Linked DNA regions of Homo sapiens. The protein of the gene in region 1 interacts with the protein of each later gene in a pairwise test. Each region holds a gene or a part of one and is shown on either strand. Other genes may lie near its edges. The genes, in order: HLCS, TXNDC15 and QKI.

Region 1 (3,653 bases):
TAGTCCCAGCTACTCGGGAGGCTGAGGCAGGAGAATGGCATGAACCCGGGAGGCAGGGTTGGCAGTGAGCCGAGATCGTGCCACTGCACTCTAGCCTAGGCAACAGAGCGAGACTCCGTCTCAAAAATAAATAAATAAATAAAAAATAAATAAAAGTCCAAGGAGCCAGAATGGTGGCTCATGGCTGTATCACAGCACTTCGGGAGGCTGAGGCGGGCAGATCACCTGAGGTCAGGAGTTCAAGACCCACCCTGGCCAACATGGTAAAACCCCGTCTCTACTAAAAATACAAAAAATTAGCCGGGTATGGTGGCAGGTGCCTGTAATTCCAGCTACTTGGGAGGCTGAGGCAGAAGAATCGCTTGAACCCAGGAGGTAGATGTTGCAGTGAGCCAAGATTGCACCACTGCAGTCCAGCCTGGACAACAGAGCCAGACTCCGTCTCAAAAAAAAAAAAAAAAAAAGCCCAAGGAATTGGTTACTGATAGAATCTGGAAGTTTGTCCCCTCCAAATCTCACGTTGAAATGTAATCCCCAGTGGTTGAGGTGGGGCCTGTGGGGGAAGTGTTTGGGTAATGGGAACAGATCCCTCATGAATAGTGTGGTGCTGTCCTCCCTATAGTGAGTGAGTTCTCACAAGACCTGGTTGTTTAAAAATGTGTGGCACCTCCCCCAGCTCAGTCTCACTCTCATTCTTGCCATGTGACACACCTGCACCTCTGTCACTTTCTGCCATGACTGTTCCTCAAGGCCCTCACCAGAAGCACATGCTGGCACCACTCTTCCTGTATGGCTCGCAGAACCTCTTCTTTATAAATTATCCAGCTCCAGGTATTTCTTTATAGCAATGCAAGAACTGCCTAATACAGTTACCATATGACAAGGCCTCTTTGTAGTTCAAAAAGAAAAGCCAGATATTAGCAATTTCATGTGATTTGACCTACTTGATTATTTAATTTATATTTTCAATAAATTCAAAATCATTTTTAAAATAAAAATAAAGTTTATGAATCGTCTTTTCTGCATATGAAAATTAGCCCTGAATTGGCTGGGCGCAGTGGCTCATGCCTGTAATCCCAGCATTTTGGGAGGCAGAGGCAGGCGGATCACGAGGTCAGGAAATCATCCCGACTAACATGGTGAAACCCCGTCTCCACTAAAAATACAAAAAATTACCTGGGCGTTGTGGCACGCGCCTGCAGTCCCAGCTACTCGGGAGGCTGAGGAAGGAGAATGGCATGAACCCGGGAGGCAGAGCTTGCAGTGAGCCGAGATCGCGCCACTGCACTTCGGCCTGGGCAACTGAGCAAGACTGCGTCTCGAAAAAAAAAAAAAAGAGGCCGGGCGCGGTGGCTCACGCCTGTAATCCCAGCACTTTGGGAGGCCGAGGCAGGTGGATCCCAAGGTCAGGAGATCGAAACCATCCTGGCTAACATGGTGAAACACCGTCTCTACTAAAAATACAATAAATAAATAAATAAATAAATTAGCCGGATGTGGCAGCATGTGCCTGTAGTCCCAGCTACTCGGGTGGCTGAGGCAGGAGGATGGCGTCAACCTGGGAGGCGGAGCTTGCAGTGAGCCGAGATCGCGCCACTGCACTCCAGCCTGGGCGACAGAGTGAGACTGTCTCAAAAAAAAAAAAAAAAGAAAGAAAGAAAGAAAGAAAATTAGCCCTGAGTTCACCAAAACCGTCGTATCAACAGCTGGTCGTCTTCTACCAAACATAAGAGACACAAGTACTGTTTGACTGGACCTAGGTTAATAAAAGCTTTATTTTGGAATCTCAATGATCTAGATCTCTTTAAAACCATTAATTCGTTCTCTAGTTACTAGAAAGGATAGAAGCATTGGTTAAAATCTTATCTCTCACTTAGCAGCTGGTTAAAACCTTGTCTAGGCCGGGAACAGTGGCTCACGCCTGTAATCCTAGCACTTTGGGAGCCTGAGGCAGGCAGATTGCCTGAGCTCAGGAGTTCGAGACCAGCCTGGGCAACACGGTGAAACCCGGTCTCTGCTAAAATACAAACAATTAGCTGGGCGTGGCAGCGTGCGCCTGTAGTCCCAGCTACTTGGGAGGGTGAGGCAGGAGAATTGCTTGAACCCGGGAGGTGGAGGTTGCAGTGAGCTGAGATCGCACCACTGCACTCCAGCCTGGGCAACACAGCAAGACTCCATCTCCAAAAAAAAAAGAAAGAAAACTTTGTCTGTCACTTAGCAATGATATTCCTATCACTTTAGGAATGTCATTTAATCTTATAACCTAAGTTTTCTTATCTTCAAAATGGCAATAATAATAATGATAATACTTTGTAGAGCCGTTAAGTATTAGTGATGACAGCTGCAGCCAGTCTGGAGCAGGGTAGGCGCGGCCAGGGATACGCGCTCTGTGGAACCAGGGGGAGCTGGGAGCAGGCAGGAGCCCTTCCCGCTTCTGAGTTGGCAGGGCAGGAGCCCAGTGCTCCCAGGCATAACTGCAGCCTCCCAGCCACAGCTGCGGACCTGGGCATCCCTGCACTCTCAGGGGTCCCAGAGGCCCCCGCTTCCCCACAGGCTTGGAAGTGCCTGATCCCGCTGCCTGGCCTCTTCCTGCTCCCTGTGCCCGCTCTGATTCTGGAGCAAAATTGAAGCTGAGCCTGGGCGGTGTCGCAACCCGGCCAGGTGGGTGCTGCTCAGGATGGCGCTGACACACCAGCCCCCTGCCACCTCAGCCCCCCTCTAGACTTTAGGAGCCACTCTGGACCACGAGGATGGGAGGGAGGCCGAGGAGGGGCTGAGGACGGCTGGTTGCAGGCCTGTAGGCACCCCTCAGCACAAACAGCCTGGGCACCTTGGACAACATGACTGACAGCAGAAGGCAGACAGGCTCATAGGTAGAAAGGGGCGGGTCCCTGGTGACGCCCTGCCTTCAAGCCAAGACCAGCCCAAAACCTGGGGACCTGGCTGTCAGTTCCAGGTGAAGCCTGTGGCCCAGAGTGAGAACTTAGAGTGCTTTTTCTGGCCCGCCCATGGCTGCCCATGGACCAATCAGCACGCGCTTCCTCCCTTCTGAGCCCATGAAAACCTCAGACCCAGCCAGACTCACACAGAGGCTGGGACTACCAGCTGCAGAAAGGAGCTACCCACTTCAGGTCTCCTGAGAGCTGTTCTGCCACTCAGTGAAGTTCCTCTCTGCCTTGCTCACCCTCCACATACCTCATTCTTCCTGGATGCAGGACAATAACTCAGGACCCACCGAATGGCAGTACTAAAAGAGCTGTAAGACAAACCAGGGCTGAAACATGTCCCCGTACTCACTACATTGCAGGCAACAAGAAGGAGAGAAGAACTGTGGCCCTTTAAGAAGCCAAGATCTAGGGGCTCCCCAAGCCAAGGCTGTAAACACCCTCTTTGGGGCTCTGCGGTTCCCAGCGTCTCCATGCTTCCAGGTGCCACCATGTTCCCCTTGTCCAGACACAGGTGCCCACAGCAAAAGCCTCATTCAGTACACCTGGTCCAGCCACAGCCTTGCATGGAGCCACCCACCCCCCCCCCCCCCGACCCTGCACTTCTCACCCACACACCCCTTGCCGCTCTGCACCCAGCTTGCCCCTGGTAGGTGTGCAATCTGAGCTGGTAGAATGAGCTGAGTGCAGCCTGCCAGGCCAAGTGGG
Region 2 (3,653 bases), on another chromosome or scaffold:
GAATGTTGTTTTCAGGCCTGCTAACACAGCATCCATTCTGCAGCCCATGAATCAAGGAGGGATTTCAACTTTTAACTCTTATTATTTAAGAAATACATTTCATAAGGCTATAGTTGCCATAGATAGCAATTCCTCTGATGGATTTGGGCAAAATAAATTTAAAACCTTCTGGAAAGGATTTACCATTCTAGATGACTTTAAAAATATCTGTGATTCATGGCAGGTGGTCAAAATATCAACATTAATAGGCGTTTAGAATAAGCTGACTCCAACCCTCGTGGATGACTTTGAGGAATTCAAGACCTCAATGGAGAATGGAACTGCGGATGTGGTAGAAATAGCAAGAAAACTAGGATTAGAAGTGGAGTCTGAAGATAGGACTGAATTGCTACAATCTCATGATAAAACTTGAAGAGATGAGGAGTTGATTTTTATGGATAAGCAAAGAAAGTAGGTTTTTGAGATGGCATCTACGCCTGGTGAAGATGCTGTGAACACTGTTGAAATGACGACAAAGGATTTAGAATATTCCATAAACTTAGTTGATAATGCAGCAGCAGGGTTTGAGAGGATTGACTCCAACTTTGAAAGAAGTTCTACTGTGGGTAAAATGCTATCAAACAGCATTGCATGCTACAGAGAATTCTTTCGTGAAAGGAATTAAGAAACTGTGGGCCACAGGCCAGGTGTGGTGGCTCATGCCTGTAATCCCAGCACTTTGGAAGGCCAAGGTGGGCAGATCACTTGAGGTCAGGAGTTCAAGACCAGCCTGACCAACATGGTGAAACCCTGTCTCTACTAAAAATACAAAAATTAGCTGGGCATGTGAAGCACGCCTGTAATCCCAGTTATTCGGCGAGAGGCTGCAGTGGGAGAATAGCTTGAACCTGGTAGATGGAGGTTGCAGTGAGCTGAGATCACGCCACTGCACTCCCGCCTGGGTGACAGAGTGAGACTCCATCTCAAAAAAAAAAGAAAGAAAAGAAAAGAGAAGAGAAAAGAAGAGAAGAGAAAAGAGAAAAGAAAAGAAAAGAAAAGAAAAAAACGAAACGAAACTGTGGGCCAGGCATGGTGGTTCACGACTCACAACACTTTGAGGGGCCAAGACAGGAGGATCACTTGAGCCCAGGAGTTTGAGACCAGCCTATGCAACATAGTGAGACCTCATCTCTACAAAAAAAAAAGAAAAAAATTAGCCAGGTATGGTGGCACATGCCTGTATTCCCAGCTACTTGGGAGGCTGAGCTGGGAGGATCACTTGAGCCTGGGAGGTCAAGGCTGCAGTGAGCCATGGTCTCACCACCACACTCCAGCCTGGGTGACAGAGCAATACTCTGTCTCAAAGAAATTGCCAGAGCCACCCCAACCCTCAGTAACTACCATCCTGATCAGTCAGCAGCCATCAACATCAAGGCAAGACCCTCTACCAGCAAAAAGATTACAACTCACTGAAGGCTCAGATGATCGTTAGCATTTTTTAGCAATAAAGTATTTTTAAATTAAGGTATATACATTTTTTAAACATAATGCTACTGCATACTTAATAAACTACAATATAGTATAACTTCTGTATGCACTGGGAAACCAAAATATTCACGTGATTTGCTACACTGCGATATTTGCTTTATCACAGTGGTCTGGAACCAAACCTGTAGTATCTTTGAGGTATGCCTGTACTAAGTACTCACAGGGTCCAGGCAATTGCCCCCACCTTTGAATTGTGCATCTCAAACCATCTAAAATGGAATTATTAGAGGACTACGATCTCAAATCCAAACTATCATCTCAGCAGAGCTAAGTCTGAACTAAGCAGTCATATCGATATGTTTGGCCAAAGGTTAGATCAATTCAAGAGTACACTGTCCTAGCCAGCCACAGTATCTTACATCTGTAATCCCAACACTCTGGGAGGCCAAAGAGGGCAAATCAGTTGAGGTCGGGAATTTGAGACCAGCCTGGCCAACGTGGTAAAACCTCGTTTCCACTAAAAATACAAAAATTAGCCAGGCGTGGTGGCATGTGCCGTAATCCCAGCTACTCGGGAGGCTGAGGCAGGAGAACCACTTGAACCCGGGAGGCAGAGGTTGCAGTGAACCCAGATCATCCCATTGCACTCCAGCCTGGGTGACAGAGTGAGACTCTGTGTCAAAAAAAGAAAAAGGGTACACCGTCCCTGCCACCACCTGTTTAATCCATAACTCAGACTGTTTAAACTGCTCTCTCCCAGTCATGTGAGTGACACCTGTGGGAGTCCCACAGACCACAGCATCTACAGGCACTCAGGAGTGGATGCAAAGCCAGCGCCGAGCACTGCCCTTGGAGGAGCTATGTGCACTACAGGTGCTGTGCCCTCACTGACAACAGTCACAGCTCTTAGAGTCAGGATTTACCTCTCTTACATAAGCAGTGTGAATGCATCCTACCCTTCTGTTTTCTGAACCACCCCACAGAAATTGTCAGTCATTGATGAAAGAGAAAATTTCATCAATATAACATATTTTCCAGGGGCATTACTAGTCTAAATAATGGTAAATTATAATTTTAGTAATCCAGATATGTTTAAATTGCCTCTGTAATAAATAAATACTTCATTTGGAAGAAGAAAAATGGCCGGGCACGGTGGCTCACACCTGTAATCCCAGCACTTTGGGAGGCCGAGACGGGTGGATTACCTGAAGTCAGGAGTTTGAGACCAGCCTGGCCAACATGGTGAAACCCATTTCTACTAAAAATACAAAATTAGCCAGGCATGGTAGTGCATGCCTGTAATCCCAGCTACATGGGAGACTGAGGCAGGAAAATCATTTGAACTCAGGAGGCGGAGGTTGCAGTGAGCCGATATCATGCCATTGCACTCCAGCCTAGGTGACAAGAGCAAAACTCTGTCTCAAAAGGAAAAATGCTATGATTTTGGTGCCAAGCAACTATCTGTCCACTGGGATTTCTATCGTGAGGTTTGGTGGTGAGACTGGCCCAAGGATAACTAGGTTTAGGCCATCTGAAAAGCATAATCAACACTAGTTATATTTCCTCGTCTCCCTATAAACATCACAGAGGGCAAAGTTGATTTTCACTGAAGCAGCCATTAAATGCTATCTCGCTTACAATATGATCAAGATCATGATTTTCCATTTCAAAGTTGATAGGGTATTAATCATAAAATAAATGTACTGAAAAGGAGAAAAGCACTAAATAATTTTTCCTTACCTGTGACATATTTAAAATTTTCAGAGTGAAATTTTCTAATCCTGTAATGTTTCTCTCCTCACAGTTCACCTTTGGGGATTTCAGACTTTCAGTGTTATTGGAGTCCTCTGTCGGGGCTGCGTCAGATTCCGCCACTTCTGGCTCTGTGTAATACTCCTCTTCTCTGTCAGGGAAGTGTGCTCCAGCGCCATCCAGAGAGAAAAGGCTCTCTCGGACGTTGCACCTTGAGTCCTCCGCTCCTCCAGCACCACAGGTGACGCCGCTAGGCTCTGAACTCACTTTGTCCTCAGCTTCCCCAGGAATCACAGACAGCATCACCATGTGATCGCCTTGGGTGTCCAGCCCCAGCACCGCATTGGCCTCTTCTGCTGCCCTGTCCTGGCCCATCGGGTCATGCAGGAGCTCCTCCTCACCCAGGTACACAGCCCCCACCTGGAGAGGGTGAG
Region 3 (3,653 bases), on another chromosome or scaffold:
TGAAATTGTAGATAAAGTGTAGTGCATTGAAACAAATGAACAAAAAGTAGATACTTTTACTATACAAGGGTGCTGGTGCAGAAAAAAATATATATATTTTTGGAAATGTAGCATTTTATACTTTCAAGTGTTATAAAAAAAAAGAAAAAGAACAAAGAAACCCTTTATTTCATTAAATGATTTTTTCTGGTGGTTGTCAAGAAACAAAAGACCAAAAGAGCCTTTTTGTCTTTCTTTTTTATTTTTTAAGTATTGGAATAAGTCTAAAGAAAAGAAAGTGCCTTATTTTCCTTCATGGTCATTCAGTCAAGTGTCTCATAAAGATCAGCTCCTCCCTCAGAATACAAGTTAATGCATGTTACTCAGTCGCCCAGTATGTGAAAGAAGATATGAGGGAGACAAATGAGTTGATAGTTTGAATTATAGGATTTTTGCCACGTTACCTTGATGCAAATTTGCCAAATCTGATACTGTGAAAAGATTTGATAACTTTTCTAATGCCTGACTAGTAAGTTTTAAAACATCATTCTTTAAAAGAATAGTTTAATACTTTTGGTTATTCCAATCTTCAATGTTAACCCAAAGGATTCTGAGATAAAAATTATGTGTCATCTAAACTTCAGTTTACAGACAAAATTAGAGCTTTGTTTTATTTGGAGAAGGGGGATGCATTCATTTGATTTTGTTTTTTGTTTTTAATTAATTGAATATAATAGGATACCTAGCAAATGTTTTCACAAAAGTGAATCTTTGTGATTTTCATTCTAGAAAACAATGTTTTAAATCACCCAAATTTAATCACATGTCTTTATATCATACCAGATAACTGGTGTAGTGTATCCTTTTACTGTTTCAATAACCTCTGCCTCCCCCACCCCTTAACTTTAAAAGAATGTGAAAAACTAGCATCATAGTGCATATAAATACTCAACCACATTTCAGCTTAAGCTTCTAATTTCTCAAGAAGTTGAAACAGTTAGTTATGTAGTTGAAGCAATTTGTGTGCAAAGCCTACATCTAAACACTTGAGTGAATAATCATTAACTGCTCAGTACCAGACGTGGCAAATCTCAAGTGACAGTGGACCCCCCCCCCCGCCCAGCTTATCAACTCGTCCCCTCTTCCACACCTTCCCAGCATCACAGTCAGAGGTCAGCAGGAAGCTGAGTCATTACCTTCTTGGTGACCTCCCCCACCATCTTGTCTCACTTGGAAACCGTTGTCAGTTTATTTACTATGCAATAGACATTCATTGTTTTGTATCCAGCTAGCTTTGGTTTAATATGCCACTGCTTTGTCTTTCTGTTACACATACAGTTTTGATTTATTTACAATATATGCTGTGCCATTTTGATTTTTATATTGTTTGGTTGGTTGAATAAATTTGCGACACTCAAACACTTGAGGTGATAGTTGTTAAAAACAATACCAGTATTTGATCCAGTTTCATCTCAACTATGTTATACCTGGACATTTTAGATGTTTATCAAAGGTCTTTTATGGGGAAGAAAGTAAATGTATGAAATAATAAATGTGTGACATTTATAGGGAATGTTGGCTCTGAACAAACTTTTGAAAACTTGGTTGACAAAATTTTGGATCAACTGAAAAAAGCATGACTTTTGAAATCTCTGAATGCCTTGGTTCTCAGTATTATCATTCTTTATTGAATTTATTTCTTATTAAAATATGTAGTTTTTAAGACTTTTTTTCTGACAGTATTATGTAATTTTTTAGCGTGGGTAGATGGGAGTGTCGCTTGTATGTTATCGTACAGCTGACATGTATTTTTGTCTATTCTTTATTATCTTAGTTTCATGCTATGTATGTACCATAACCAACCTATTGCCTATGAGAAACATGTAAGATAATGTATTTACAGCCATTGTTACAAGTTTATAATGTATTTTTCTATCTTGTTTTATATGTATGTTATATAACATTCAAAAAGAATTTTTTTCTTGATTGAGAAAAGGATACAAAATGCAAAATCCACAATTTTGATAACTGAAAATTGCCAATTGTTTTGCAGTACTTTATTATATTGGGTGTCTTGTCTTTTTTGGGCTTTTAGTTAGCTAATGAATGAATACATTAGACACTTTTGGGTTTTAGTTGGGATTTTACATAGCTTGCATTTTAATTCTTTGGTTCTTTGCTGTTTCTATTAACCCACAGCATTATTTTAATAAATGTTATAATACCAACCTACTAACTCTGGACTTTGTCTGTTTATTAACCTTTATATGTTTAATTAAAATAAACAAATAAAGACAAAAGAATGTAAAGTCTTGAGTTACTGGACTAACCCTGAAGAACGTGACCACAGATAACATAGTGTGACTTGTTTTTATGTTGTTTGTCAGCTGACAGTTTTGCACACTACTGTTAAAATGGCTTTGGTTATTCTGGTCTTTTAGCTTGGGGGCCGGGGCGGGTGTGGGTGTAGGTGCAGTAGAGATGGGAACAAAGTAGCCTTTGTTTGAGGCATTCTTCTCTTGCCACTTGCCTTTCAGCATCTGCATTACTAATTCCACACCTTATTTTTCCTTCTCCAAAATAATCACTGTCTGCTCACAGCATCGAGTAAAAAGATACATTGTCATGGTATATACCTGGAGAAACCAGTTTGATTCTTTGTTGAACCATTTCTTTTAATTTCTGTAAATAAGTAATTTTATGGTCACATTGTAAAGCAGAGAAACTGTTGATATTTTACCTTTATTTAGATTTTTGTTTTAACTTGACCTTTTTCCTTTGGAAAGCGTTGAACTTGTTTAGCTAACTACTCCTATTAGGGGAGCTTAACTTGGGTAAAGTCAAAGGCCCACTGGCTGTTTCTCATGGTGGCCTGAAGCCCCGCTGCTTTCCAGTGAGGAAAAGAACCCTCAGCACGTTACTGAGCTTTCCTCAGGTATTTTTTTCTCTGTCACCTACTTTACAAATACAGTCAGACTAAAACATTAAACAAGAAGTTTAAGGGGGAATAACATTGGGATTTGAAAAGTTGTATGTGATTAATTTCTTGCATGCAAATCAATTTAAGATTTCTTAAATATCTTCATGCTTTTCTTGGCTGGAACTTGGGTAAATTAACCTGTAATTATGAATTATTTAGTTTAACTCAAGGTGCATTTTTATTTCACAGATTGATACTTGCTTTTTTCTGTGAAACAGTTCTCCTAGATACCAAAATCCTCAGGATGAATTTTTGCATTTGTAAATAACAATTTATCTTTGTAAATTACATTTTATTTATTTAGAGTTCTAAAATTGAGGGCTGAAATGAATGACATGTAATAGAAGACAAAACTGTACCAATACGCTGTTAACCAATCAGACTGTCCAGGTATTCTCATTTCATAAATATGTATACACACATATAAATACACAGAGTAGTGTTAGCTGATGTGAGTGATAACAGCGAATCACCATTGAGATGGTCATTTGGATCATGTAAACAAACCGTGTCATGTCTCTGATGGGAGCGGTGGGTAGTGTACTGTTAGGTGGACAGGTCTTTTAACATGCTACTATTTGTAAAAGTTTCCGTTGCCATAACAGTTCATGTAGTAGTCTGTGAAAATTCGAAGCTGTCTGTCAAGCTGCTAATATACAAGTTGTCATGGTACCATGTAACTTAAATTGATGAA

The links.
Region 2: the proteins of HLCS (region 1) and TXNDC15 interact in a two-hybrid assay, tested with the Homo sapiens proteins (one large-scale study listed by BioGRID and IntAct).
Region 3: the proteins of HLCS (region 1) and QKI interact in a two-hybrid assay, tested with the Homo sapiens proteins (one large-scale study listed by BioGRID and IntAct).

What each region holds. Positions count from the first base shown.
Region 1 is NC_000021.9:36,956,608-36,960,260, forward strand, and holds part of HLCS (biotin--protein ligase), read right to left. Parts: intron 1-3,653. UniProt on the Homo sapiens protein: Biotin--protein ligase catalyzing the biotinylation of the 4 biotin-dependent carboxylases acetyl-CoA-carboxylase, pyruvate carboxylase, propionyl-CoA carboxylase, and methylcrotonyl-CoA carboxylase.
Region 2 is NC_000005.10:134,887,737-134,891,389, reverse strand, and holds part of TXNDC15 (thioredoxin domain-containing protein 15 isoform 1 precursor), read right to left. Parts: coding exon 3,208-3,653; intron 1-3,207. UniProt on the Homo sapiens protein: Acts as a positive regulator of ciliary hedgehog signaling. Involved in ciliogenesis.
Region 3 is NC_000006.12:163,571,586-163,575,238, forward strand, and holds part of QKI (KH domain-containing RNA-binding protein QKI), read left to right. Parts: 3' UTR 1-3,653. UniProt on the Homo sapiens protein: RNA reader protein, which recognizes and binds specific RNAs, thereby regulating RNA metabolic processes, such as pre-mRNA splicing, circular RNA (circRNA) formation, mRNA export, mRNA stability and/or translation.